Linked DNA regions of Homo sapiens. The protein of the gene in region 2 interacts with the protein of the main gene of each other region in a biochemical or structural test. Each region holds a gene or a part of one and is shown on either strand. Other genes may lie near its edges. The genes, in order: DAB2, PRKCD, RASGRP3 and AFAP1.

The links.
Region 1: of the proteins of PRKCD (region 2) and DAB2, one has a biochemical effect on the other in vitro, tested with the Homo sapiens proteins (one study listed by BioGRID).
Region 3: of the proteins of PRKCD (region 2) and RASGRP3, one has a biochemical effect on the other in vitro, tested with the Homo sapiens proteins (one study listed by BioGRID).
Region 4: the proteins of PRKCD (region 2) and AFAP1 form a complex in vitro, tested with the Homo sapiens proteins (one study listed by BioGRID).

What each region holds. Positions count from the first base shown.
Region 1 is NC_000005.10:39,379,956-39,386,989, forward strand, and holds part of DAB2 (disabled homolog 2), read right to left. Parts: intron 3,317-7,034; coding exon 2,663-3,316; intron 1,662-2,662; coding exon 1,499-1,661; intron 1-1,498. UniProt on the Homo sapiens protein: Adapter protein that functions as a clathrin-associated sorting protein (CLASP) required for clathrin-mediated endocytosis of selected cargo proteins.
Region 2 is NC_000003.12:53,185,181-53,192,214, reverse strand, and holds part of PRKCD (protein kinase C delta type), read right to left. Parts: intron 6,612-7,034; coding exon 6,515-6,611; intron 6,289-6,514; coding exon 6,188-6,288; intron 6,049-6,187; coding exon 5,875-6,048; intron 5,612-5,874; coding exon 5,520-5,611; intron 4,876-5,519; coding exon 4,813-4,875; intron 3,496-4,812; coding exon 3,357-3,495; intron 3,158-3,356; coding exon 2,969-3,157; intron 2,343-2,968; coding exon 2,214-2,342; intron 108-2,213; coding exon 1-107.
Region 3 is NC_000002.12:33,472,412-33,479,678, reverse strand, and holds the start of RASGRP3 (ras guanyl-releasing protein 3), read right to left. Parts: upstream 3,031-7,267; 5' UTR 2,972-3,030; intron 1-2,971. UniProt on the Homo sapiens protein: Guanine nucleotide exchange factor (GEF) for Ras and Rap1.
Region 4 is NC_000004.12:7,929,862-7,936,861, forward strand, and holds part of AFAP1 (actin filament-associated protein 1), read right to left. Parts: intron 1-7,000. UniProt on the Homo sapiens protein: Can cross-link actin filaments into both network and bundle structures. May modulate changes in actin filament integrity and induce lamellipodia formation.

The DNA.
Region 1 (7,034 bases), on a different chromosome or scaffold from region 2:
AACAGTTATAGGGTCCAGCTGTATTTTCAGGCTGACTTGTTAAATATTGGCTGCAAAAATTCTTAAGGGCATTGATATCAGATAAAAAGCTCTGTGATGTGATCTCGCTGCAGACATTGCATTGCAAGCACTCTGGTCTTCTGTGAGGGAAGGGTACCAACCAGCTCCACTTGGGGGTGCAAGGAAAAGAGCAACGCAGAAAGGGGGAAGCCCCCAAGAGACATGAAGTCTTTAGAGAGAGCCTCTTGATGGGGTAAATGCGAGCAGAGACCTGGGACAAGCTGGCTTTTCATACCCTCACGGATTTCTGCCACTCAGCAGTTGAGTAACAGTCCTCCTCTGGCCACCCTATTCTAGATATGATTAAACAGATTTCTTGTAAAAGAACCAAACTATTTTCCTTTGTAGGAAAACAACAGAGACAGAGAGGAAAACAAAACAAGGATCCTGATGACTGACTGCAGGAGGCAGAGAAAGCCAGGATCCCTGGTCAGATTTTACCGAAGGAGAGGAGAGTCCTTCCTCGTCTACAGTCCTCCACCTCCCAAGCCAGAGTCCATTTGGAGTTTGTAGAGGTGCCAAGAGAAGAAAAATAGAGTCCATAGCAGGACAGCAAAAACTATTGTCAGGGTTTCTGAAAACTGTACCATGGAGTCTGAAAAGAACTATAGGCTATGGACTAAGAATAGCAAGGCCAGCCCTCAGTCAAGTGGACTTTCCCACTGTCCTACCACAGAGTGATCAGCGGCTCACACAAGCTAATGACACATTTAGGAATTAAGAGCGTCAATGCATACTAGCTGTCTGATAAAATTCCATCTCTTCCCTTATTTCTCTCTTTTTTCAACTTTGGCTTTCTAGGACTTATGTTCTAGCTTCAGTAAAACACTCAAGCTAGCCAAAATATTGGCAAGGAGCTCCTATGGCAGAAGTGCTCAGAGACTGATCAGGATGTGTGCCTGATCTACCCTTACCATACACCTAGGAACACAGCTGGGCCCAGAACCTAGGACTTTCACTCTATGACTTATTCTTGCTTCAGACTTAACTTACATCCTTCTTGGGCATATATTCCTTCTAAGAGGGCTATGTGTTGAAAGGACATAGGCCTTCGATCTATTATGGCAAAAGACATGGAAGACATGCATGTTGACAGACAAGCCTCTCTTATGTCAACCCTGTTTTGCTACTGAAGCTGGTCTGAGTTTAGAATCCCTTACAATTGTCTTTCAGGAAACCATGACCAGTTGGTTCAAGTAAGTACAATACTGAAAATGAATTTCTTGTCTCATGCTGCCTCGAGGAGCCAAATGTGAGTTACAAGTCAAGAATATCAAATGGATGTGGGGTTGTATAGTAGAAGTGGGAGAAGGGCTCCCTGGGATGCTCAAATCTTATGCTGTAAAACCCTCTGGGAGTATGAAATCTCTTCCGATGCATCATCATTTTATGAGCAAAAGCAAAAGAGTCATACTTAATTTTATCTCTAGGCACCTACCTAGACCCACCAGGGGCCCCACTGGGGCAGGAGCACTTGTTTTGAAGAGATCCAGAGGGTTGGGCTGCAGGGCTGTAGGTTGTCCTGTGGGTGACGCCTGGCCTGAAGGTTCTGAGACGGGAGGAGCAAAGATGTCTGATGCAAGCAAGTCATTGGCTGAAGACTGACAGGACAGGGAGGGAGGGAGAAGCCTTAGTTACTCACTAACAGTGAAATACAGCCTCATTTTGTCTCCTACCCTATACCCCAATTTGAGAGCCACAAAAAGGAAAACTTTTTTCTTGACAGATGAACAACAACAACTACTACTACAGAAAAAGAGTCCTCCAAAAAAAGACACAGATTCCTACAACGGACGGACTACTGAGTCTTAGTGTCTGACACTACCTAGGACTTGCAAAGTGAAATCTACTATATTCCTTTACACACTCACATTGGTCTGGTCTCATCGCTAAATGCTTGAAGTTGGGGGAGCAAGTGTGTAAAAGGGGCAACTACCAATAAGCATCCTAAATATTTTTGTTCATTCCATTGGATTTTAAGTCAGTCTACATAGAGATCATAGGGTCTTAATCCAGGCAAGCCTGTATATTCTTAGGAGAGGTAAAAAAAGACACCTATGGGAACTGCATTTTAAATTGCTCTTAAATAAAGCTGAGATCATAGTGGTAATAGTAAATACATAAGCTTAGAAAAAGCTTATGTATTTACTCAGTATTTAAAAGAGGAGATAAGCTCGAGAATTTTATACCACCACCATGGACACTGATGCAACATGATGGGTGTGCAGGGCATGTGTTAGTGTCAGGGAAGTACAAAGGGAATCACAAGAACTCTCACCCTCCCAACCCAGAACACGATGATCAAACTTACCAGAGGTATAGAAGCATAGCAGCATTAAAAATGGAAAAACTTGTGTTTAGTTTAATCATAAGTGACAAGACATGCACACGGAAAGCAGGGTGTGAAAAACACTGCTGAGAAGCTTAAAAACGGTGGCAGTTAGAGGAAAGTACTCCTGGAGAACCAAAGTGCCTTATCCCACCTTCTATTTCACAGCAACACAGGAAACTACGAGAGCAGCAGGAAAGAGAGCTTGCATCACACCACCCTTTGGTACCGAACATGCACTCTGCTAATGGATATGTGGAGAAGACAATTCACCTTAGCAGTCCTTCTGCCTCTTCCTGGTTTGGTACTTTGTGGAGGTGGGATAATGGCTATGGAGTCATGTGGTGAGGACTGGACAGAGCTTTCCAAGTCCTGCTTTACGCCATTCTGTATGGACAGTCCTTTGGGAGGGCTTCCCACAAAAGGGTTCGGGGAGGATTTGACAGAGAAGCCGTTCTGTTCTCTTTCAGATACCCCATTTTGAGTTCTCACTGCTGGCTGGGTTTGCGAACTTGAAAAGGGCCATGGGCCTGCCTGAGCTTCCTGTTTGCCAGTCCGGTTAGAGATCTGGTCAAATTGCTGACCAAAGTAGTCAACATCACCATTCAGGGGCCCATTACTCAGCGGAGTAGACGAGCTACTCGAATTCTCTTTCTTCTGATCTGGAGATTTGAGAGAATCAAACGAAGAAGGTGTCGATTGGTCTGGCTGTGTGAAAGGATCGTCACGGAAAGGATCAGGATTAGGGGTGGGAAAGAAGTTGAGATTGGCAGAAAAGGCATTTTCAGGCAAGAAGGATGCCTGAGGCGTTGGTCGAGGAAGAGAACAGGAGGTGATGCCGTTTGTTAAGAATGGATTTTCTCTTAAAGAATTCTGATTGGTGTCGATTTCAGAGTTTAGATCCACTAACAGGATATCTTTGCTTTCCTATCACATTTGGAAAGAAAAAAAAAGAAAGTGTTAGTCCATGTTGTGACTTCAAATGAGAAAATTACATAAGATGACTAGGATTATCAGAATTTCCATTTGAATTTGGTCTTGATAAATCGGTTGATCATTACCTCCTTCCATCAACCCCCGTAGTCCATTACTCCCTAGCTATAGACTAGGTCCTTTCTATTCCTCCCCAATATCATGCCCTTTTATTTAAGTCTCAACCTCATTAGGTGAAATCTTACTGTTGCTTACTTCATGTCTCTGCTCACCCTGGTTCACACATACAGACTGGCTTAATTCATTATGAGCATTGTTTCAATTTGTGACTTTGAAAGTCTTAAAGGGAATTGATTGTGAGTCACTATAAATGATTATCAAAGTATGTTGAGCTTGAAAGTAAGTGATTTCAGAAGCTTAGCTCAGCTTCCTACCTATACACATACAGTCCTCTCTATTGTACCCCCAGAGTCATGTAGGATCATCTCTCTAAATGAGAAAATTCATCGACTAATACATTCATATTTTATAGTTCTGGCTGTGATGAAATTTAAGATCAAATGCATTTCCCTAAAATCGGTCCAGTTCTTTCCTCTAGAGGTGGGAGAGAGGCTTTTCTTTTATATCACGGCCTTCAGGTATGTCTCTTAATATTTAAGGCTCTTGCTGAAGCTGATAGTCAAGTAGGATCTCATCCTCATCATCCCAGTCTCTCCTCTGGGCTTACCCTTTTTGTCTATGTCCTCTGAAAGAGACACTCAATACTGATCTAATTTAGTCAATCACACATTAAGATCTCCTATTTGTACATCTTTTCATAACATTGCTTAGAGTTGCCTGTGTTGTGACAGTAATCTCATCTATTTAGTGGTTAAAGTCAACCAACAACTGATCTTTAATTTATATACAGTAGTCCCTCCTTATCCTCAGGGAATATGTTCCAAGGCCCACAGTGGATGTCTGAAATGGCACATAGTGCCAAAACCTATATACAGTATTTTTCTCATATACATACACATGATAAAGTTTAATTTATCAATTAGGCACAATAAGAGATTAACAAGTAATAAAATAGAATGATTATAACAATATGCTGTAATAAAAGTTATTTGAATGTGGTCTCTCTGTCTCTCTTCTCTCAAAATATTATATTGTACCGTACTCACTTATTTTCAGACCAAGGTTGACCACAGACTTAATTTCAGAAAGTGAAACTGCAGATAAAGGGGGACTATTGTACAAGGTAGAGACATGGGTTTAAGAGTTAATTTGAAAGACATATCAAATATGTAGCTCTACTAATTCTATCCCCTCTCTATCATTTCTCTGGTGTGTTAATTTTTTGGATTTTCAACTGTTTGATAAAAAATTCTCAGCTTAAAAGCAGTAAATTTGATGAATCCGACATGTCTTTATTCCAGTAAAAGACAGAATTATAACTCATCCTAGAACAGAACTTTCATACTGACATCACTTCCTTCTGCTTGACTTTGATCCATTAAATACTTAACTATGCTACCCAGAGAAGAATATAAATGATAAAAAATGCCTTGCTGAAGTGCAAGTTATAGTAGTTATCTTGCATTACCCTGAGCAGAATACTAAATATTTTGATCATTGGGGAAAATAAACAACTTCAAGGGAATATAAAATTTGCAAACTAGTAAATACAAAAGGGTTCAAATAGAACTCCTTGGCTTTTAAAAGAAAAAAAAATACCCAATTGTTTAGAAAGTTTAAGTCCTATTTCATGGCCACAAAAGAGACAGCAAAATCAGACCTAAATGGTAATCTATCTTTTGGATTCCTTTACTGTGAGGCATAAAAATACAGTTTTTATAAGCCAAAGCCAGGCTTTCTCTTTATAAAAGAAGAATTTGTCACAAGAAAGAGCTTATAATTAAAAAAAAATTTAATCAGAGAAATGGATTGGAAGAGCTATTAATCTAGGGATCTTTATACAATCAAAAGGTAGGATAAAATGTATTACAAAAGCTTGTGATTTCAATATTTATTTATTTGTTTTGAGCCACCTCTGGGTTAGAACAGTTGAGTGTTCACAGCTGGTAGAGTTCTCGTTTTCAAATACTTCAGAAGAAGTTCTTAGGACACCAAACAGGAGCCACAATGTTAGACTTCTGAATAGTCACCCTATAAGTAAAATGTATAAGGCTCTCCTCAGGCTGGGTTTGTTATTAATCCAAGATTAAAAGTGTAGTTCACAGACTACAACTGAGAGCCCAAAGACTCCTCATCCACCCACTTGGTCAGCGCCTCATTCATTCTTTGTCGAACTGTCAACACTGCCTCCAGTTGGCCACTGTTTGAGCACCTGAGCCGCACGCACTGGAGACACGGCAGTGCGTTACAGAACCTGCTCGTAGGGAGCTCCAGTAATCGGACATAAATCCTGAGTTCCATAGCCTAGCTCTTCTCTGGGTGGCTAATCTCACCTAACCATTCCAGTTTGTCAGACTGAGGACTTCTCTACTCAAAGCCTTAAGTGGCTTACTGCTGGCTCCCTATATTAAAATAAACCTCCTTAGGCCAAATTTCCAAATGATCCACAATAAGACCCACGTTGTTTCTAGCCCAACTATGATCTATTTTCCTACACACTTCAAAGACCCAACTCAAATTCAGATTCTTTACAAAGCTTTTAGCATCGATTTTTCTGTCTGCACTTGCCCTGTGCCCACCCGTGTTATCTTATGGCATGTACACAAGGACATAAGTGACACTCCTGCTTTGTATCCTGATCCCATCCCTTGTACCAGATTTAATCTCCTTGATCACAGATCATGTCTTATATTCTTTCCATAGTAACTGTGCTTTCAAGTGGTTGTTAAAGTTGCAGAACATGGGTTTTTATGTTTTTCTTTCTTTTCCTTTTTTGAGATGCAGTGTGGAAGGATAATGCTCAAGGGGCTTGCCAATAAAAATTCTGTTCTAGGGGATACCACATAGTTTGCAACATGAGCATTATTTGAAACTCATAAAACTTTTCTGTATAAATTTGAGGGGAGTGACAACCATCTAGGACCAATAATAAAGTCTAGGTAATTTAGATTTCTTTCTCTCTTTACATATTTCAGAGCAATTGTTGAAAGAGTTGAATATTTTTAAACATGCTGGCTTTACCAAGTAGAGATAAATCTATTTTTGACCTATGACTATAGAGTCAATAGATAAGAACATGTCAAAGCCTAACCAGCACATAATTAGATCTGTTAGCCTTCTTTTGGTTATCAGAGAGTATATATTTTGATGGTATTTATTACTTTATTGTTAGTTTAACTAAAACTTGAATTCCTATAAATAAAAAATTCTTAGACTTCATAAAGTCTAATAAAAATGAGACTGAAGATTATCCATGTTGTTTTCCATTTCCTTTTTTAGAACATTCTAGAAGTCTACAGAAGTAGATTATATAGGCAGTACTTCCTTGCCTATTCCAGTGGAATTCCACTTCATATCTTGAGTGCTTTGCTCTCTTTGAATATTACTTGTTTGAATGTCATTTATACTTGGGAAGTAAGTGTTCAGATACTGATTTATTTGAGAAAACATCACTAATGGAGGAGAGCACAAAGTTGACTACAAATCAAAAGGACCTCAGAGTTAGGATGGACCTGTCAGGATAATCTAGTCTAGTACTTTAAAAAGTTTATCCTCAGAACTATAACAAAAATTATGAAGAATGAAAGGTTCT
Region 2 (7,034 bases):
AATGCAGACTGGTCCATGGAGTCGATGAGGTTCTTGTCGCTGTAGGAGAGGCGCGCCTTCTCGTTCAGGAACTCCTGGTCAAAGTTACTGTAGTCTCTGGGTGACTTCTACAAGCAGAGGGCAGGGGTGAGCGAACAGGACCTAGGGAATGGCCCTCCAGACACCCCAGGCTGGAGTCCCTGCAGGGCTGGGCCAGGCCAGAGCTGTCCTCACCCAGAACAGAAGACAGAGCCTCCCCTAGCAGCCTGAAAGGAGCCCCATGGGAAGGAGGCTGCCATTTCCCCAAGAGGATGAGGAAAGTGACCAGGGAGCTCTGGGCCTGGGTTAGGAGAGGTGGTAGCCTCTTGCTCAGAGACCACCGAATCACAGCCCAGGGAGGCTCACTTACCACCTGTTTTTGTGGGGACCACAAGCTAAGAATGGCTTTCACATTTTTAAATGGTTGGAAAAAAAATCAAAAGAAAAATATTTCATGACATGAAAATTAGGTGAAATTCAAATTTCACTTTCCATAAATAAAGCTTTTGTAATACACAACCATGCCCATTTGTTGACATACTGTCTATGCCTGCTTTGAGACCATCAAGCCTGAAAAGCCTAAAATATATACTATCAGGCTGTTTACAGGAGAAATTTGCTGATTCTCTGCTCCTGAGGATATGATGGGATGGTAATATAGAAAGACCGCAAGCTGGTGGCCCTTCAGCCAAACTGAACTGGCAAGTACAATCATTTCGGCTTGTACTGGGTTTTAATGGAATTTGAACCTATATTTTATTTATTTATTTTTATTTATTTATTCATTTAGAGATGGAGTCTCACTCTCTTGCCCAGGCTGGAGTGCAGTGGCACGATCTCGGCTCACTGCAACCTCCACCTCCTGGGTTCAAGCGATTCTCCTGCCTCAGCCTCCTGAGTAGCTGGGATTACAGGTGTGCACCACCGTACCCGGCTAATTTTTTTTGTATTTTTTGTAGTAGAGACGGGGTTTCACCATGTTGGCCAGGCTGGTCTCGAACTCCTGACCTCAGGTGATCTGCCTGCCTCAGCCTCCCAAAGTGCTGGTGTGGGCCACTGTGCCCGGCCTGAACTTATATTTTAAAATTGAGCAATGCAACCTAAAAATCCAGATTTCCAGCTTCTTTTGAAAACTGGCAGATTAAAGCAGCCCTGGGCCCACTTCCTGCCCACTCTTGGTGCTAAGAGCCCCCTGGACAGCCCCTGCCCCACTGACAAGGGGTACATCACACCTGCTTTGTGTTTCTTAGTGCGGAGAAGGAAATCTATCAAAAGTGAGACTGAAAGCAGGCTGTGTGATTTTCTTGCAGCTGGCCTAGCCTGTCAGTTACATGCTCAGCCAGGACACGTCTGAGTTTGAGGTCCCTGGTGTAGGGGAAGTGCTCTGTAGCCTCAAAGCACAAATGTGGGGCGCATTACACAGGCTGCCCAGTGGGAACTGTGTGCCCTGGTGGAGGAGGGGAATCAAAGGACAGAAGGGGAGTGGGAAGGAAGAACTGTGGTCACAGAGGGGCCACACAGCCCCAAATTTCTTAGTGGCCCCACCTGCCTCTGCTCTCAGGCTGGTTCCTTGGTAGCCCTGTAGATTCTGGGCCTGTGAGTGAACCAGCCCCTCTTCCACCTGGAATGCCTCCCAGCTGTCCCTTGTCTCACTTCTTCCAACGGGGCCTCTCAGACCCACCCTCTTCTCTGCCACCTGGGTTCCTGCTGACAGACCCACTCAATAGCAACGGATCATGTGTCCTGGGGCATCTCTTATACTGTCATCTCGTATCACAAATTGTCATAGGTGTGCAAGTTTCTTATCTCTCCAACTAGCTGAGAGCTCCTCCGGTTCTGGGACTGCATCTCCCACTTTGCTGTGCAGCCCAGCACTGTGCTCTGCATTCAACAGGGACTCAGGATTCCCCATATGTATTGGAAAATGGATTGAATGGAGCGATAAAGTGAGGTCTTAACTCTATTTCCCAAAACAGGGTCCTCTGCATACAGTGGGATCCACAGTCCCCAGTGTGTGCTGAATGACTGAGTCAGGAGGGAGAGGATGAGAATACAAGGGCAGCGGCTGTGACTGAACATGCTATGGAGATTGCTGGAAGAAGGGAGAGGTGGAAAGCGTGTGAATGATGCAGGAGAGAGGGAGGGCAGGAGAGGAGTAGCTCAGCCTGAAGGCAGCACAGGGCAGGATCACATACCACTTTGGGCCTGAAAGGTGGCTCCAACCTCCGCTTTTCCAGCAGAGTCCAGTTTATGGTCTTGAAGAAGGGGTGGATTTTGATGTTTCCGGTCACTCCCAGCCTCTTGGTTGGTTCCCTTTCAAAGAGCTGCAACCCAGCAGGGACCCTGGTTAGCACCCAAGGGCCATGGGAAATTGGAGCTTCAGCAAATCCCCAGCAGGCCCAGGGATGCAAAGCCAGGCTTGCCCCAGCCCCAGTCAGCCTGGGGAACGGTGGGGCTGAGGGAGGCCACTCTGGCCTGCAGTGCTCCCAGCTCCCCCGGAGATGACAGGCTCTGGGCTGGACATCTGCGACTCTGCTGGTGGAACTTTTTATTATTTACTATCTGCCTGGCCCACAGCTGAGCATCATATGTTTCTATTTTCTTCCCAACAACTCTGTGAGTCAAGTCTGCTCATAGCCCCATTTTACAGATAAGGAGACAAACTCTGAGAGGTTAAGTGACCAGCTAGTCCCAGGCAGAGCCAGCATTTGGCCTCGGGTCTGTCTCCTGACCCTGGGCCCTTAGTCACCATGTCAGGCTGATTCTATGCACAGGACTCAGACAGGAGTTCCTGGGAACATGGTGAGAGAGCAATACCCCGTATGTTAGGACTGCAGCACCACTGAGGCTGCCATTCCAGAGACAGGAAGCTCCTCACCCAAAGCCCAGTGTCTGCCAGCCCCTGCCCCAGCCCAGCCCAGACCAGCCCAGCCCAGCCCAGGGCCTCCACCTTCTCCAGGATGTCCTTGGACTCCTTGGTGATCCAGCGGGGATAATGTGGCGTGTCCACACGGATGGACTCGAAGAGTTCATCCTCATCATCACCATGGAAGGGGGACTGGCCAATGAGCATCTCGTACAGAAGGACCCCGAAAGACCACCAGTCCACAGAGAATGTGTACTTCAGGCCCTGTAGGATCTGGCGGTGGGGAGAGCAGCAGGTCAGCAGGAGCTGAGGTGCTGAGGCTGAGAGGGGCCCCTGGGCACGAAGCCTAGCCAGGCCGCCTCAGCCTATGGGCTTTGGCTTGGACATCACTGCCCTTGGGAATCCTTCCCTGGCCCACCGTGGGGAGGCAAGGTGCCTGACTGAGCGGGGGGCTGGAAGGGTATCGGCTCACCTCAGGGGCGATATAGTCAGGGGTGCCGCAGAAGGTGCTGGCCCGGCTCTCCCCGAATATGTTCTCTTTGCACATCCCAAAGTCGGCAATCTTGATGTGGCCATCCCGGTCCAGCAGCACATTGTCCAGTTTGAGGTCCCTAAGGACAGGGGACAGGTAAGAGTCAGCAGGGGACATTTCTTCTCCTTCCAACCCTGCCCCCCATGTCCTAATTTTCAGCCGTATTAGTCCAGGACTGTCCCCAAGGGTACAAGGGAATGAGAAACAGAAAAGGAAGCAGAAGGAGAAAGAGATCCTAAAAACAGGTGCTTCTTGCAAGTCCCCTACTGTGTGCTAAACGCTGGGCATACACTGCCCTACTTCCTGAAGCCCAAATGGGGCTCAAACAGGTGATGTCACTCGCCCAGGGTCCCCTAGCAGTCAGCAGCAGAAGTGACCCCCAGGTTCAGGTTTGTCTACTTCCCACAGGCAGAGACCATGTCTATATTTAGTAATTAGTCATTTGAGTATATACTTAATGCATATGGGAACTAGAAATGGCAAACAGTACAAAGTCTACCTTCCACTGAGCTCAATCATGAGGCTCTCCTTAGAGCAATTCTAGGCGTGGACAAGCATATGGCAGCATGCAGCTCGCTCCCACCTTTTTTTTTTTTTTTTTTTTTTTTTTTGAGACACAGTCTCATTCTGTCACACAGGCTGGAGTGCAGTGGCATGATCTCAGCTCACTGCAACCTCCGCCTCCCGGGTTCAAGCAATTCTCCTGCCTCAGCCTCCTGAGTAGCTGAGATTACAGGCATCCACCACCATGCCCAGCTAACTTTTGTATTTTTTAGTAGAGACAGGGTTTCACCATGTTGGTCAGGCTGGTCTCGAACTCCTGACCTCGGGTGATCTGCCCACCTTGGCCTCCCAAAGTGCTGGGATTACAGGCGTGAGCCATCGCGCTCAGTCTCCCTCCCACGTTTTAAAGGCTGAATGCTAATATTCGATATACACTTTCCCACAGGTTGTTTTTCCACTTAACAACATATCTTGGCATTATCCCACATCAGTATACAGAGCCTGACCTCAGCCTTTTTGGTGGGTGTACAGTTCCCACCATAGGATGGAATCATAACTTATTAGATGAGACTTTATGGAAGGAGTCCCTTCTGGCAGAAGCTTAGATGACTCGATGGGGCTTCAGAGCGAGACTGACGGCTCCAAGGATGGGTGGGGCGATGGTGTCAAATATGAGCAGTGAGTTCCTAGTTCCTGAAGCTGAGCCAGCCTCAAATGGTGGCCACAGGAATGCTAACACCAGGGTGGGAGGCATAGGCAAATACCCAGCTAAAGATTGATTTCCAGCAGAGAAGGAACTGGAGTTGGGGGGATCCTGCTTGGAGCATTTCAGAAGATATGATGGGGCTGGAGCCTCCCCTCCCAAGAGCCCCCGCTGCCCTCACCCCCGCACCTGTAAATGATGCCCTTGCTGTGTAGAAACTGCAGTCCACACATTATCTCAGCGGCATAAAACCTGGGCAAGAGAGAGGGATAAAGTGTTCCGGGATCTCTGCCGAGCAGCCTCTGCTTCTCCTCGGGCCCTCAACCCCACTTCCAGGAGCAAGAAATGCTGCAAATAACTCCATGGACCACCTGAGCATGATCAAGTACATCTTGTATCAGGCAAGTGGGGGCTGGCAGCCCAGGCAGAAAGTTCTGAAGGGAAAGCTCTCAGTGAGCCAATTCTCTAAGAGTGTATGCATTTACATGCATGTACATATGTGTTTGCATGCATGCACACACACACACACACATACACGGTTAGTTTGGGGTAAGGGGCATGTGAATGGGGAGAAGCAGGTCTGGGGGCCACGCACCAGGGTCCTGTGTCCTGTGTCATGCAGGACCACCATTTGCAAGGCTGCCCTGGCTGTGGCCCACGGAGCGGCCAGGACCCAGAGTATTTGCGCTGCGCACCCAGCCGCAGTTCACTTGCCACCCATGGCTTCCTGTGTGGTGCCGACCCAGGCTACCCCCACATCTCCCCAGTTGCCGCTCTAGCCCAGGCTGGCTTTTCTAGGGAGAGGGAAGAAGGCATGGAGGGCAGACTGGAAGTGGGCTCTGAGCCAGTAGCCCTTCCTCCACACTGGGCCCTTCCCCACCATGGCCCTTACGTACGTGGCACGGTAGAGTTCAAAGCGGCCTTTGTCCTGGATGTGGTACATCAGGTCCCCCCCGTTGAGGAACTCCATCACAAAGAACAGGTGGTCCTGGGGTGGGAAGGGTGGTGAGCAGGGGTGAGGAATAGGCAGGAGGCTCCCTCACTGAGGGCCACTGGGGCCAAGCCCCAACAGGAAACAGCAGGGACAGGCCCTGGCTGAGGTGGACGACTCTGCCCTGGGAGGCATGAGGGGGGAAAGCATGGCCCTGCCTTAAGTGGCCTGAAGGGGAGACACAGCCCTGACTGAGGGGGGCTGAGGAGCTGTGGGACATGGCTGTGGCATGGGGTGGTGACGGCAGGAGGCCCGGGCACCTTGGTCTGGAAGGTGCAGATGAGGTGGGTGAGAAAGGGATTCTCTGCGGCAAGTGTCAGCACCCGCTTCTCAACCATGGTGCACTCCACGTCGTCGTCGATCAGGACCACATCCTTCTTGAGGGCCTTGATGGCAAAGTACTCTCCTCTGCCCTTCAGCTCTCCAAGCAGCACCTGATGGGGAGACACGGGTGCTGAGCAGGTGAGGACGGGGCAGGGGCCACAGCCCGATTCACAGACTCCCACCTCAGCCACCTAAGCGGGAAGAAGCCAGGGTGGGGTGGGAAGCAGGTGCCCGGCTCACAGCCCTCACCTTCCCGAAGCTGCCTTTGCCCAGGACCTTGTGGAAGATGAAGTTGTTGATGTTGCACTTGCTGCTGCCCTCCCAGATCTTGCCGTAGGTCCCACTGTTGTCTGCCCGAGAGATGGCACCTCCTCAGATCGGGGTCTCAGTCTACACAACTCCCCTCCCCCGGGGCCTGGGGTAGGCTGGGGGAAGGGGCCTCAGAGAGGAAGGGGCTCGCTCCCCAGGACCGGTGGTTCCTTCCATGTCTCACTTGACAATGGAAGGGAGGACAGTCCCCTTTCTTTGGCCTCAGGGGGAATAAAAACCGTAATGGGGCAATGGACCCAGCTTCACCTTGCATGTCCTCCCCAGCAACTCCGGTCTTCTTCTCGAAACCCTGATATATCCCAACAGGCTCTGAGGAGGCTGAGTCTGATCTCCGGGAGGCTCTCTGGGGAGGGAGCAGAGGTGGGGGGCCAGATGGTCAGACCATTATCAGAACTCCCAGCCCAGAAGGAAGACTCCCAGGTATAACTCCACCCTTAACACCAAGAGGAGACAACAGGGGCACAGCCCAGGCCCCCTACTCGGGCTGCGTGTACACACACGCACTCTTCCAGGAGCCCAGAGAAGCCTTGGTGGTCTGAAAGGCTCTGATTACAAACAGAAGTTTTGTAAACGGAACCCTACCTTCCCAACCACTCACTCGATAGATTTTATTTGACTATTTAGCTTCATTTCTGATTGATTCTAAAATTTTACCTTTAGGTTTTGTGGCATCCCTCAAGCCCCCCCCACATACAAACGTCCACACCCAAAGTCTTAGTTCAAAGTGTTCCAACACCCACTCCTGTGGTCCCCAGGTTCACCCTCA
Region 3 (7,267 bases), on a different chromosome or scaffold from region 2:
AGAAGTAGGACTCAGGGTAAATGGCAGGTGCAGGCAGTGAAGAAAAGCATACCTCTCCTCCCTCACCACTGCCAGCTAGTCCCCTGCCCCGTGACCCACCCCTTACACCCACAGCTCAAAAAAACAGCGCAGAGTGGCAGAGTGCATGGTTTCTATTCATCAACAACCTACTCGGACAACCAACCTTCCAGGCTGAGCAAAGGGGATGGGTCTGATAATAGCTTTATCAACACTAAGCCAGCTATTTGGGGTGGGGCATGGGTGGAGTGGCTGTCCTCCAAAGGAAAGGAGTGACAGGAAAACTGGAGGGAAAGGCCAGAAGGGGCATGGGAGCCGTGTGCTGGAGGTTAATAACAAAGTTCCCGGTTGCTGTTCTTACCAACATCAAGACCGTCACTGAACTATTTTCAAAGAGAAAAACATGCCACCAGCCAGCGATCCTATAGAGAGAGCTTGGGCTTGGACTGTCACAGGGGGAAACCTAGCCCTTCCTGTCATGGAGAGCTCGAAAAGGGCATAACACACATTGTGTGTGTAATCATATTGTGCTGGAAATACTCTCATTTGCATGTTGTGAGTTTTTACATTTAAATGTGTGGGATTCCACTTTTATTTTTTAATGTATACAGGTTCTACAGTCAGATCCAGGTGTCCCTCCTGTCTGTGTTACATATGGTCAAGTAACTAAGGGTGTCCCTCCTGTCTGTGTTACGTATGGTCAAGAACCTCAGTTTCCTATCTATAGAACTGGAATAATAATATGTAACACATAGAGTTATTGTGAGGAGACTATGAAAATAAATACACTTGTTTAGCGCATCATTTGGCAGAGTAAGTGCACAATAAAAGTAAGGGATTGTTATTAGCGTTGAAATTATGATGGAAGCCTTGAGCTCTCTCTTCTGGCTCTGCACCGTAACTCCGATAAATTTGCTACAGTTTCCTCATCTTTGATACGAAAGAGTTAAATCGCACATTCTATCATTCCTATCCAGGTCAAAAAGTCTTTGAGTCAATGGATGTACTATCTGCAAGTAAAATCATTATTTTTTATTATTTTGCTATTAATATTTTGAAAAGGCATGGGTTTTTCAAAGGAGCCTGTTGGCTCTCAAAAATACAGCAGTTGGATAATTCAACTGCTCCCATTTAGACATTCCATTTTATTATGGGAGGCTCGATGATTCCGGAGACACAATTTCACCAGAGGGTTCTCTTCCACTATCAACCTGTGGAAAATCTGAAACTATACCAGGAACAAACTCCCTAAAGAATGACTCAGGAGGAACCCCCTCCCCCAGCAGTCAGACAGGGAAGTCACAGACCACATGGCCGCGGGCTGACCCAAGGACCTCACACAAATGCCATACCGAGGAACAGAGAAGTTGGGACTATTTTTCCTCATTGGCCACTCTACATTTTGTGGATTCTTCTACATTTGAAGGAAAAGAAGGTGGAGAACTTCTCAATGTCAGACTAGCCATTTGTTTAGACAGGGCATCCGAAACTGCTTCCATCAGAGAACATTGGTTGGTGCGGTACTCAAGACCCACTGTGCTGAGGGAAACTCGATCGCAGAAGTGCCGTGCCCTGGGTCATTTTTAATCCATTCTCCACAAACAACAAAGGATGGTAAGGGTGGGGAGAGAACAGTGTTCCCTCATGGCAGGGGGCAGAGGGCGAAAGAAAACCGTATAGCTTGAGCCTGTATGAGAATCCATTTGTCACACGAGGAAACAAGCGCACTCCAGGTTGTCCTAGGCTTATCACAAGCAAAACAACTATTTGGTGAGACTTCAAATAAAAACAGCCCCTCTCTGCCCACCCTCCTCAAGATCCACGCGATCTCCAGAAACAGGAACCTGTTTGGTTATCTCCCTGCAGCCTCTGATTCAAAGACCTGTCACTTTCAGAGCTTTACGTCATCAGTTTAGAGCTCTGCCCTCTCTCTTTTCCCCTTTTGCCTTTCCTCTGAAGCATTCTGTCTGGTGACTACCAAGGAAGGACAAAAGTCACCGAACAACAGCTCAGTTCCAGCATGGTGCCTGCTTTGCTGCTCGCCCAAGCGCAAGCACCATTACTGCTGAATGAACCTGAGAAGGAGCCGGTTCTCTCCGTAATTTGGATGCCAGGCCTCCCAGAGTTAATCATCAGCTGCAGGCAGCACTTTCCCAGTCAGGTCATAAACAAGGAAAAAACAGCCTGAGTATCACGAAAACACTAAAATAAGGAAGACCAGCGGCAACCGAACATTTTAAAGTAATGAAGGTGAAGGAAGACCAGGGGCAACTGAACATTTTAAAGTAATGAAGGTGAATTAGCTTGTTGGGGGGAAAAAAAGTCGCTATAAAATACAGCTTTCAATTAGTTGGAAACCATGCAAGAAATCTAAATATGATTTCTAATGTGAATCTAAATATTATTTTGTCAGTCTTCTATATTGCAGACAGTTCTACACAGTTAAATGAGATATTCTCAAAAATTGAATAGGAAAAATCAAATCAGCCATACAATAAATTCACAAGTTACTTTAAACAACTACGTTTTCAGGTTTCAGTGGTAGAAACAGATTAAAATCAAATCTAGTCATCAACTCACTTCAATGAAGTCTCTACTTCATAACCTGAACTTGACTTTGAACCTAAACACCATGGACTAGAAAAATCTTGAACACTGGGAAACAAACTTTCTGTTTCCTAGACAGGAATGAAGCCATATGCCCCATTCATCCTCAAAGTTACAAGACACGTTGCCGAAAATAACAGGTTCTAAAAAAGGGCTGTGAAAACACCAATGGCTGTTAACAGGTACAAATAAAATATCTCCTTCTATCGTGCCAGAGGGAAACCAAAATCAAAATCAAAAGTTGTTGGTGGCTTGCAACACACACACACACACACACACACACACACACACACACGGAGAGGGAATGAAAGAGAGAGAGAGAGAGGAAAGTTCTCCAGTTACTTACTAGGGTGGTTTTGTCGTGGTATTTTTCACATCAGCACTCTGCCTGTCCAGCTGCCAAGTGCCGGAGCACGCCGAGAGCAGCTGTTTCCTTCAAGCTGGGGCTCTGAGTCTTAACCAGTCACATGTACCTCCTGATAAATACCGCCCGCCACCGTGCCAGGAGGTCAGAAACTGAAGATCATTCTTCTCCTCACTCGCAAACCACCTCATAACCCCTGAGTTGGCTCAGCCATCTCATGAGCATGCAGAGCGGGATATTCCACAATTTGTTTTCCTTTAGTGACAAAAGCCAAACAGCTGATAAGTCACACTGAAGGGCAGGTCACTGCAAGTGGAAAGTTAAATGTGTTTGCGTGTGTGTGTGCGCAGAGGGGGAGACTGGCAGGCTCCATGCTCTCTCATCTCACTCAAGTTTCACTGGGGCTCTCGAACGGCAAGAGAGAGGATCACCAACTCGCACAGCAGGTGGAAGTTGCTCTGTGTTAACCCCGGAGTACAACTGTTTGGTTTCGTTTTCTCAGAATCTCAGGCTCCAGTTTGTTAGACGAGCCACAAGCCTGACTAGGTGGCTGGTGCTGGGGAAGGCAGACCCTCACTCACCATCTAAGAATGCTTAGGTTGGACTTCAAAGGCCGGGGCTGCTAAGCCAAGGGACGCTGAGGGGCAAATATGGGAGGGGTTAATGAAGACTATCAAAGGCAGCTTTATCTGAAGAGCTCTTGGAAGTGATTTCAGGTAGCTTTAGACCAAACTTCCGCATTGTTATCTGTTGAATTGCATCGAGCAGCTGAGATTATCAGCCGGCGAGTGTGAATGCAAACAGAAATTATCACCAAGTTGACAACGCGCTTTACAGACGCACTACTGCCCCCTTTGGTGTGCTGGGAACTTGGAGCAAACTGCCGTTTTCTGTGCTGCTCGCAAACGTGGCAAACCATCCCTGATGTTTTGTTGAATTCATATGTCTCACCTGAGCTGATGTTCCCACCCTTCCCTTTTCATCCTCCCTTCCAAGGAAAGCCCTTGAAGTATCTGACTTTACGTAGTGTCTGACCTTGGATGTCTGACTTCTTGGTATAGTAAGGGTGACACTTCCCCGAATCAGTGTCTGAGCCTGCCCTTCAGGTAGAGATATGACATAGAGGCAGCCTATTTGGCAAAGTGAACATCCAGAAAAGATGGTTGAAGTCCCCCAGGGGATTTCTGAACCATAATGTGCCTGTTAAACTATTAACCCTGATTTTTAACACATAATATCTTACTCAGTGTAAGAGCCTGTGTGAGTAATCTTTTATATTTAGGCTTTGTCTCATAATTATTTACAGTGTTAATCAAACCAGAAATTTCCCTCCATATAGAGGATACAGTGTTTTCTAGAATAAGAGAAAAAGACAAAAAACCCTCAGTCTCACCATACTATCAGGGCAGTAATTTGTTGTCAACTTGTGAGAGTCCGAAGAGCAAATGGGAGAATTTTGTAAGCACCAAAACAAATCCCTTCCTCAGCATTTCAAGTTAGTAATAGAAATAAACTTCAGATATAAAAATGCAATGCATAAAATACACATTTCCCTCACAGGCATTTTTGTTTATGTGTTGATGTGACAATCTTCAATTAGAAACAGAAAAAGAGGCCTACTGAGGATTTGAAACATTATTTTGATTTACTTACCCCCTTGTATTTACAGTAATAGAAACTTTTGTGATCTGATGGCATCCATCCATCACTTTGTTTACCATTGACTGGGTTAATTATTCTGATGATCCATTGCATGCCACATAAAGAAACAGGGACTTCTAGAAACTCTTCAATGCCCAACAGCGACAACAGCCTCAGGAAAGTTAAGTTGTATTAGTCCATTCTTGCATTGCTATAAATACTTGAGACTGGGTAATTTATAAAGAAAAGAGGTTTAATTGGTTCATGGTTCTGCAGGCTATGGAGGAAGCATGATACTGGCATCTGTTCGGCTTCTGGGGAGGCCTCGTGAAACTTACAATCATGGTGGAAGGCAAAGTGGGAGCAGATGAGTCACATGGCCAGAGCAGCAGCAAGACAGACAGGGGGCACTTCTAAATGACCAGCGCTTGCCAGAACTCACTATCAGCTGGGTGTTGTGGCTCATGCCTATAATCCCAGCACTTTGGGAGGCTGAGGAGGGTGAATCACCTGAGGTCAGGAGTTTGAGACCAGCCTGGCCAACATGGCAAAACCCTGTCTCTACTAAAAATACAAAAATTAGCCGGGCGTGGTGGTGTGCTTGAACCTGGGAGGCAGAGGTTGCAGTGAGCCAAGATCAAGACCGCACCACTGCACTGCACTCCAGCCTGGGCAACAGAGTGAGACTCTGTCTTAAAATAAACAAATAAATAAAAGAACTCACTCACTATCATGAGAACAGCACTAACAGGATGGTACCAAACCATTAATGAGAAATCTGCCCCTAAGATCCAATCACTTCCCACCAGGCTCCACCTCCAACACTGGAAATTACATCTCAACATGAGATTTGGGTGGGCACAACATCCAAACTACATCATAAGTGTAAAGCAGGAGTCCCCAGCCCCCATGCCATGGACAGGTACCTGTCCATGGTCTGTTAGAGGCCAGGCTGCACAGCAGGAGGTGAGCAGCAGTCAAGGGAGCATGACCATCTGAGCTCTGCCTCCTGTCAGATCAGCTGTGGCATTAGATTCCCATAGGAGCATGAACACTATTGTGAACTGTGCACGCGAGGGATCTACACTGCATGCTCCTTATGAGAGTCTAATGCCTGATGATCTGAGGTGGAACAGTTTCATCCTGAAATCATCTCCATCCCCTCATTCCCGGTCCATGGAAAAATTGTCTTCCATGAAACTGGTCCCTGGTGCCAAATACATTAGGGACCACTGGTGTAGAGGTTCTTTTCTAGTTCTATAGCCAGGAGAGGAAGGGATGGATCCTCAATCCTCCCTATGAAGCAAACTGTTAACACAGAGGCCAAGACCCAGGACCCTTTCAGTCAGAGTCCAGGAGTGTGACTAAAGGTTCTACAATAACACAGCCTTGCAAAGAAATGGGGGAGATCCCATCTTTCTGCCCACACTCCCTACCAGTTCCAAGCATTGTCTTCGACTCAAGAAGAGGTGCCCTCTTCCTGTCAAGAGGCCACCTCCTACCTCGGCTTTGTGTCTCACCCTGTGTCTCCCACCTGCTTAGGACTCTCGACAACAACCACGCCTTCTCTTGCTCTCAGCGTGCGCTCATTAGCTAAACATGCTCACGTTCTCACATTGTCTTTATATCCTAACAACAGTCTTTCTGATTTTTTGCTTTTTTTTTTGAGACGGAGTCTCACTGTGTTGCCCAGGCTGGAGTGTGGTGGCGCGATCTCGGCTCACTGCAAGCTCCGTCTCCCAGGTTCAAGCCATTCTCCTGCCTCAGCCTCCTGAGTAGCTGGGACTATAGGCACCCGCCACCACGCCCAGCTAATTTTTTGTATTTTTAGTAGAGACATGTATTTTTAGTAGTAACATGGGGTTTCACCATGTTAGCCAGGATGGTCTCCATCTCCTGACCTCATGATCTGCCCACCTTGGCCTCCCAAAGTGCTGGGATTACAGGCGTGAGCCACTGCCCCCAGCCAGACTTGCTCTTTTAATTACTGCCCTAACTCCTGCATTCCCTCCACAACTAAACTCCTGAAAAAATACTTGTCTTCACCATCTCACATCCCATTTACTCTCAACCTACTTGTGGCTTGGCTTTTTTTCCCTCACTTCACTGAAACTGCTCTTTCCAAGTCCCCAAAGACCAAAGGCAACCGACACTTTTTGCTTTTTTTTTTTTTTTTTTGAGACGGAGTCTTGCTCTGTCACCAAAGTGCTGGGATTATAGGCGTGACCCACCGCGCCCGGCAATTTTCATGTTTTTAGTAGAGACGGGGTTTCACCATGTTGGCCAGGATGGTCCCGAACACCTGACCTCGTGATCTGCCCGCCTCAGCCTCCCAAAGTGCTGGGATTACAGGCGTGAGCCATCTTACTTGACCTTTTGGCTCTATTTGTCCCAACTGACCAACCACCCCTTGAAAAGCTCTCCCATGGCGTCTATAAAATTTTACTACTACCTCCTTCATCCTCAGGTCTGGGCTTCTCTTCCGCTATCTGCCCCTTAGGTGTGAAAATCCTCTCTTCTCATCTTGCACTCTTACCGCCCCTCATATGTTCTGATTTATTACTGAAGGTCTGCGGTGATTTCCTAATTAATCACCTTGCCTCCAAAAAGCCTGTCTCTGATCTCAATGTATGTTTT
Region 4 (7,000 bases), on a different chromosome or scaffold from region 2:
CGGCTCTGTTCTCAGCAGGACCGTTATAATAGCTTCAGGCCACAACGGTCAACTTGGTGTCAGGACCTAGACACACCAAAAATCCTAACAAATAAAGAGGCCATGTATGCAGCATGCTGGTTAAAAGCACAGGCTTCGGAGTCAGAGCTTGAATTCTTATTATGTGACCTTGAGCAAGTTACTCAATGCATCAATCTCATTTTGTCACCGGCAAAATGAGGACATTATCTGCCACACAGTGTTGCTGAAAAAGTAAGAGAGGTGACACACAAAGTGCTTGGCACTTACTTACTCTTATGGTTTATTACAAAGAATAGAACACGGGAACAGCCAAATGCAAGAGACGCACAGGGCACACCACGGGGCAGGGAGGTCGGGGCTCCCATGCCCCTGGGAGTGCCACCTCCCCAGCACCAAATGAGTTCGCCAAACCAGAAGCTCTCCAAACCCAATATTTAGAGGGTTTTATGGAGTTTTCATAACATAGACATGATTAAGTCATTGGCCACCGGTGGCTAGCTCAATCTCTCATTGGCCACCGGTGGCTAGCTCAATCTCCAGCCCATCTCGTCTCCCCTCCCCGGAGGTAGGGGTAGGGCTGGTATGTCCAACTCTTTAATCATACCTCGGTCTTTCTGGCAACCAGCCCTAATCCTGAACCTGTCTAGGGGCCCAAAGCCACCTGTCATCTCATTATCATACAAAAGACACTCCTATCACTCCAGAGATTCCAAAAGTCTTAGAAGCTCTTGTGTCAGGAATTGAAACCTAAGACCAAATATTATAACCAATGATGTTCCTATCAGGAAATTACAAGGGTTTTAGAAGCTCTGGGCCAAAAACCAGGATGAATACTAAATATATACACTATTGTACTATGTATCCCACTATCACAATAATTTTTTTTGAGACAGAGTCTACCTCTGTTGCCCAGGCTGGAGTGCAGTGGTGCAATCTCAGCTCACTGCAACCTCCACCTCCCAGGTTCAAGCAATTCTTGTGCCTCACCCTCCTGAGTAGCTGAGACTACAGGTGTGCAACACTACAACCGACTAATTTTTGTATTTTTTAGTAGAGACGAGGTTTCACTGTGTTGGCCAGGCTGGCCTCCAACTCCTGGCCTCAAGTGATCTGCCTGCCTCGGCCTCCCAAAAATCTGGGATAAGTCATGAGCTACCGTGCCTGGCCTCACTATCACAATAATTATACTGAGAGGATAGGGGAGAAAAACGTGGGCAACAGGAGGAGCGGGGAGGGTAAGCCACCTGAGTCCTTGTCTTCCACAGGACATCTCCCTGTCTTTCACACAATCTAGAAGAATGAGCTAAAACATAAACGCAGTAACCTCCAAGGAACAGGGATCAGGGTGGAAAAGGGTAAGGTAGGGAATTGCTGGGTTTTGTTCTAAGCCTTGTTAATTTCTGACTCTTAGAACTGTATGCCTGTACACCTTTGCTAAAAATGAGTATTTAATTTTTAAACAAAATCTGATACTTGACCAACAAGAATAGTATATTAAGTGATATGGTTTTTTGTTTTTGTTTTTCAGAGAGAGGGTCTTGCTCTGTTGCTCAGGCTGGAGTGCTGTGGTGCAATTGTAGCTTACTGCAGCCTCAAATTATTGGGATCAGGTGATCAACCTCCTGAGTAGCTAGAATCACAGGTGTGCACCACCACGCCCAGCATTTTTTTTTTTTTTTGGTAGAGGTGGAGGTCTCGCTATGTTGCCTAGGATGGTCTTGAACTGCTGACCTCAGTGGATCCTACTGCCTCAGCCTCCCTAAGTGCTGGGATTACGGGTGTGAGCCACCACACCAGGACCAAGTGGTGTGTTCTAAAATTTTCTGGAATGCAACCACTTTGAAAATGTATGGAGAGCTATAAATCATCTCCCCATAAACACACATGGATGCATATACACAAAATTTTTGCACAGGATTTTGAGGAGTTCATAAATTTCTGAAAGCCAGGTTAAAAACCTTAGGATTATAGATTCTGGTTTCTTTTTCTTTTTTTTGAGACGGAGTCTCACTTTGTCGCCCAGGCTGGAGTGCAGTGGCGCGATCTTGGCTCACTGCAAGCTCCACCTCCAGGGTCCACGCCATTCTCCTGCCTCAGCCTCCTGAGTAGCTGGGACTACAGGCACCCGCCACCATGCCCGGCTAATTTTTTGTATTTTTTAGTAGAGATGGGGTTTCACCATAACCAGGATGGTCTCGATCTCCTGACCTCGTGATCCACCCTCCTAGGCCTCCCAAAGTCTTGGATTACAGGTGTGAGCCACCACGCCTGGCCCTAGATTCTGGTTTCTTAAAGGAAATGTATTTCAAGTCAGAGCTTGTCATTTATTGCACAGGAAAAAAAACTTCATAAAAAAAAATCAAAAACACCCACATGATAAAACGAGGTCCTGCTTGGTTTTAAACTACTTGGTGACCACCATCAGTTGTTTTCTTGACCACAGGATGCACCTAATTCCTAACTATTAATAAAGGTACAAACATTGTTTATTGGGCTTTTTGCTTCAGCCTTGAAACAATCAGATTCTCTAAAACTCAGGAATGTGAATCGCTGTTGGGTTGATTCAGCTGTTTCCATTCTAGAAATGGACCTGGAATCATGTACTTTTCACCCCATGAAGAGTTCTTTGTGTAAAACTTGAAAAGGCAAGGTCCCAAATTCCCCATATGGGTGTTTCTTCCAATAGAGGAATTACTCTAATGACTTCTTAGCAAAACTTATGTAATCAGGGCAGGCCATCAAAATACTCCAAAACACAAAGTTTAGCTCCATTTCTGAAGGACCTGTCTCCACTGCTATAAACCTCACCAACAGCCTCACATCAAGTCAGAGGAACAGATTTTCCATTTAAGAAGGATCTTCATGGCAGTGGCTCACGCCTGTAATTCCAGCATTTTGGAAGGCCAAGGCCGGCAGATCATAAGGTCAGGAGTTTTTGACCAGCCTCGCCAACACAGTGAAACCCTGTCTCTACAAAAAATACAAAAATTAGCCAGGCTTGGTGGCACGTGCCTGTAGTCCCAGCTACTCAGGAGGCTGAGGCAGGAGAATCCCTTGAACCTGGGAGGTGGAAGTTGTGGTGAGCCGAGATCGCGCCACTGCACTCCAGCCTGGGCAACAGAGTGAGACTCCCTCTCAAAAAAAAAAAAAAAAAAAAAGGGGGGGGATCTTCACGTTCCTGACGATTTGCAAAAAAAAATTGGTATCTGTTAACCAGAGGCATTGAAAACCACCTCCCAGGCTGCTGTAGTAAGTGGATTGGTAACCGCGGTGGGAGATTCTAACCCCCGAGACCTGTGACTACGTCACACGGCATGGCCAAAGGGCTTTGCCACAGGCCTTAGGAAGAGTATCCTGGGCTAACCAGGGAGGTCCAATCTAATCCCATGAGCCTTTAAGAGCACAGAACTGGCCGAGCACGGTGGCTCACGCCTGTAATCACAGCACTTTGGGAGGCCAAGTTGGGCCGATCACGAGGTCAAGAGATCGAGACCATCCTGGCCAACATGGTGAAACCCCATCTCTACTAAAAATACAAAAATTAGTCGGGCACAGTGGCAAGCACCTGTAATCCCAGCTACTCAGGAGGCTGAGGCAGGAGAATCACTTGAACCCCAGAGGCAGACGTTGCAGTGAGCTGTGATCACACCACTGCACTCCAGCCTGGGCAACAGTGCGAGACTCCGTCTCAAAAAAAATATTTAAAAAAAGGGTATAGAACTTTCTCTGAGTGAAGAAGAGAAATGCGCCCAGGGGAATTGGAGGGCCTGACCAGGTCCCTGGCCTAGCTAGTCCTGAGCTGATGGGACCACATGCAAAGACCAGATAGAGGCCTCAGGAGCTGAGGACAGCCCCCAACAGATGGCCAGCAAGGGGACACCTCAGTCCTGCAACCACAAGGAACTATATTTGGCCAAAAGTGCTTGGAAACAATTCTCCAGTGAGGAATGCAGCCCAGCCCACATGGTGATTTTTGCCCAGTGACACCCACGTCAGACTTCTACCCCACAGAACTGTGAGATGATACAATTTCAATTATTTTAAGCCACTAAATTTGTGGAAATGTGTTAAAGCAGCAACAGAAATGAATATAGTGATTTACGTGGAAATCCCTAGCGGAGTGTCTGGCACGGTGTTGACATCTGACAAGCGTTTCCTGATTTCCTTACATCCAAAGGCAGGGCTGGCCACACTCCATCCAAAACAACAGATGATAGACTTGTTCTGACAGAACAGATACAGTGAATTATAAATGGCCCAGAACACCTACAAATTTTAGGTTTCAGGTAAGTGATTGCCTTTCCTTTCACTTAGAAACCTCCCAATGCTTGTCTTACTGATAAGCTCTAAGTACCACACAGAAGACTAAACACCAGACTAACCCGGCTCCAGATGCCCCGAGGGAGCCCAACCCAGCACTCACTCTGCTGCACTGAAATGATGTCCAGGTCGGTTTTTCCCACTGGACCACGAACTCCAGCTCTCCACGTGTGAGTCACGAGTCCCACTTCTGCATCTCTGCTTCTAGAACGGTGCCCCTGCACTTCACAGGAAATCTGTATCCGTGTTTGTCAACACTATATATGACAGTATAACTTAGTATGTGCACAGAAAACATAAATTCTTCGAGGACCAGGGCCGGGTTTATTAGCCTTTGTACTCCCACTACCACTGTCTGGGATATCAGGGGCACTCAGGAGAAGTTGGTGACGAGAAAGAAAAGGCAGAGGAGAGAGAGGAAAGCAGGCCCGACACCGCACACACAGCTTCTGAGGTGGCTGGAGGAGAGGCAGGTGCAGAGAAACTTCCTGGGTGCTGGACTGGGGTTCACTGTGATGCTGCTGCTGGATTTCAAATGTCAAAATGTGATGCTTTGCTGACCTTGACCTCTGACTGCCCTTTAGTTTTCCCAGCCTCAAGACAGGGCACTTAGAAACTGCAATGTCAAGAAATTACGCTTCGCTAAAGCATGGGAATGCTATTTACGTGGACATTCATTACTTCATTTTTTACACGGGAATGTAAATAATTGAAGAGATTGTTAAAGACTAAATCATGCACATTCAATACCTTTGCAAAATATTAATGATAACTGAAACACAAATTTGATGTTCCCCAAAAATGCTAAAATATAAAACAATACTGGCCAATTAAAGATAGAAAAAACCCTAATCAAGCTCCCCAACAGACACATTAAGACTTCTCTGTACATTAAACATTTGGGATTTCAAAGGAAAACTCAGATTCATTCCATTCTTAATGGGTTTTTTTTTAAATCTTAGGTAATACAATATTTTATTTAAAATTTACAAAATTCCATTACATTCATGATTTCATTTGATCCTCAAAACAATCTCCTGAGTTAGGCAGAACAGGTGTTACTAGCAATTAACTCCATTTTACAGGTAAGGGAACTGAAGTTCAGAAAAGTACTTGGACTTAACAAAAGCTTTAGTAGGGCCACATATCGAATTCCAGTCCTCTGCTAAAAAGAACTAAAGTTATCTTTCACATTTTATTCATACTTATATCCTGTCAATATCCAAAACTGTTTTGAGGTAGCCTGAAATAATAGACACCTATACAATAAAAACATTAAAATGAAAAACAGAAAATAAAACAGCAGGTGACATGGGAGAGAGAGGAAGGTAGACAGCAAAGACTTGAGACTTATAATCTAAGAAAACTTCATCTCTGACCTTCCAGTTCCAGGCAGATAATACTAAAGGGAACAAGATGGCTTACAGACTCATAAGCTGACAAAAGAGAAGTCGCATCAGTCCTTACTATGAAACACTCCTAGCAGCCACAGCAAATCTCTAGGATACAATACCAATGGCATCAAAGCAAGGGTATACTTCAGTGATAGAGCGAATTAAGTTCCCTGTTTGGGACCCCGGCCAGGGCTAGAGAAAAGAACTCTGAAATGCAGAGCTCAAAAATATATCCTCTGTGTTCTCCATACCCATGCATCCCCTCCCTTTCATTTAATCCACATAAAAATCAAGCCTGCTGTAAATGAAAAACACCTCGACACAGAAGCAGAATTAACTAGTTAAGTTTTATTAAAACATTAATAAAATCTAGAAAACCATAAAGAAAATCTGGTCGCGTTTTGAAGCCCTCTCCTAAGATCACATTCCCCAAAAGAACAAAGTACATGGAGCATATAACAAAGAACTTTTCCTAAATTAAGAATGCAAATCAAAATACAGGCAAAATCCTACTGAGTGAAGCAAAAATTGTAATTCAGTAGCTCACGACTTGACCAAATGGCTATTTTTAATCCCTATAATCATCCAAATAACTAGGAATAGCAGAGAAAATTGTGTCTCCTTTCTACAGAGACACGTGGCTTTAACAAACTCAGGCACATCCAATTCCCACCTTACCAAACAGATAAATTGGAAAGGAGCTTAATATTTTATTTTTAAACTATTTATTTACCTTTTTATTTTTTACAGAAAGGGTTTCACTCCGTCACCCAGACTGGAGTGCAGTAGCATGATTATAGCTCACTGCAGTCTCTAATCTTGGGCTCAAGTGATCCTCCTACCTCAGTCTCCCAAAGTGCTGGCATTACAGGTGTAAACCACAGCACCTGGCCTTACTGTTTGAAAGAATTAATTACCATATTCCTTAGAACTATAGCTCCTCTATAGGTCATTCAACATGTGATGCAATTTTTTACAAGCGGTAATTTTTTTTTTTTTTTTTGAGATGGAGTCTCACTCTGTCACCCAGGCTGGAGTGCAGTGGTACAATATCGGCTCACTGCAATCTCTGCCTCCCAGGTTCAAGTAATTCTCCTGCCTCAGCTTCCCGAGTAGCTGGGACAACAGGCATGTGCCACCACACCCGGCTAACTTTTTGTATTTTTAGTGGAGATAGGGTTTCACCGTGTTAGCCAGGATGGTCTCCATCTTCTAACCTCGTGATCTGCCTGCCTCGGCCTCCCAAAGTGTTGGGATTACAGGCG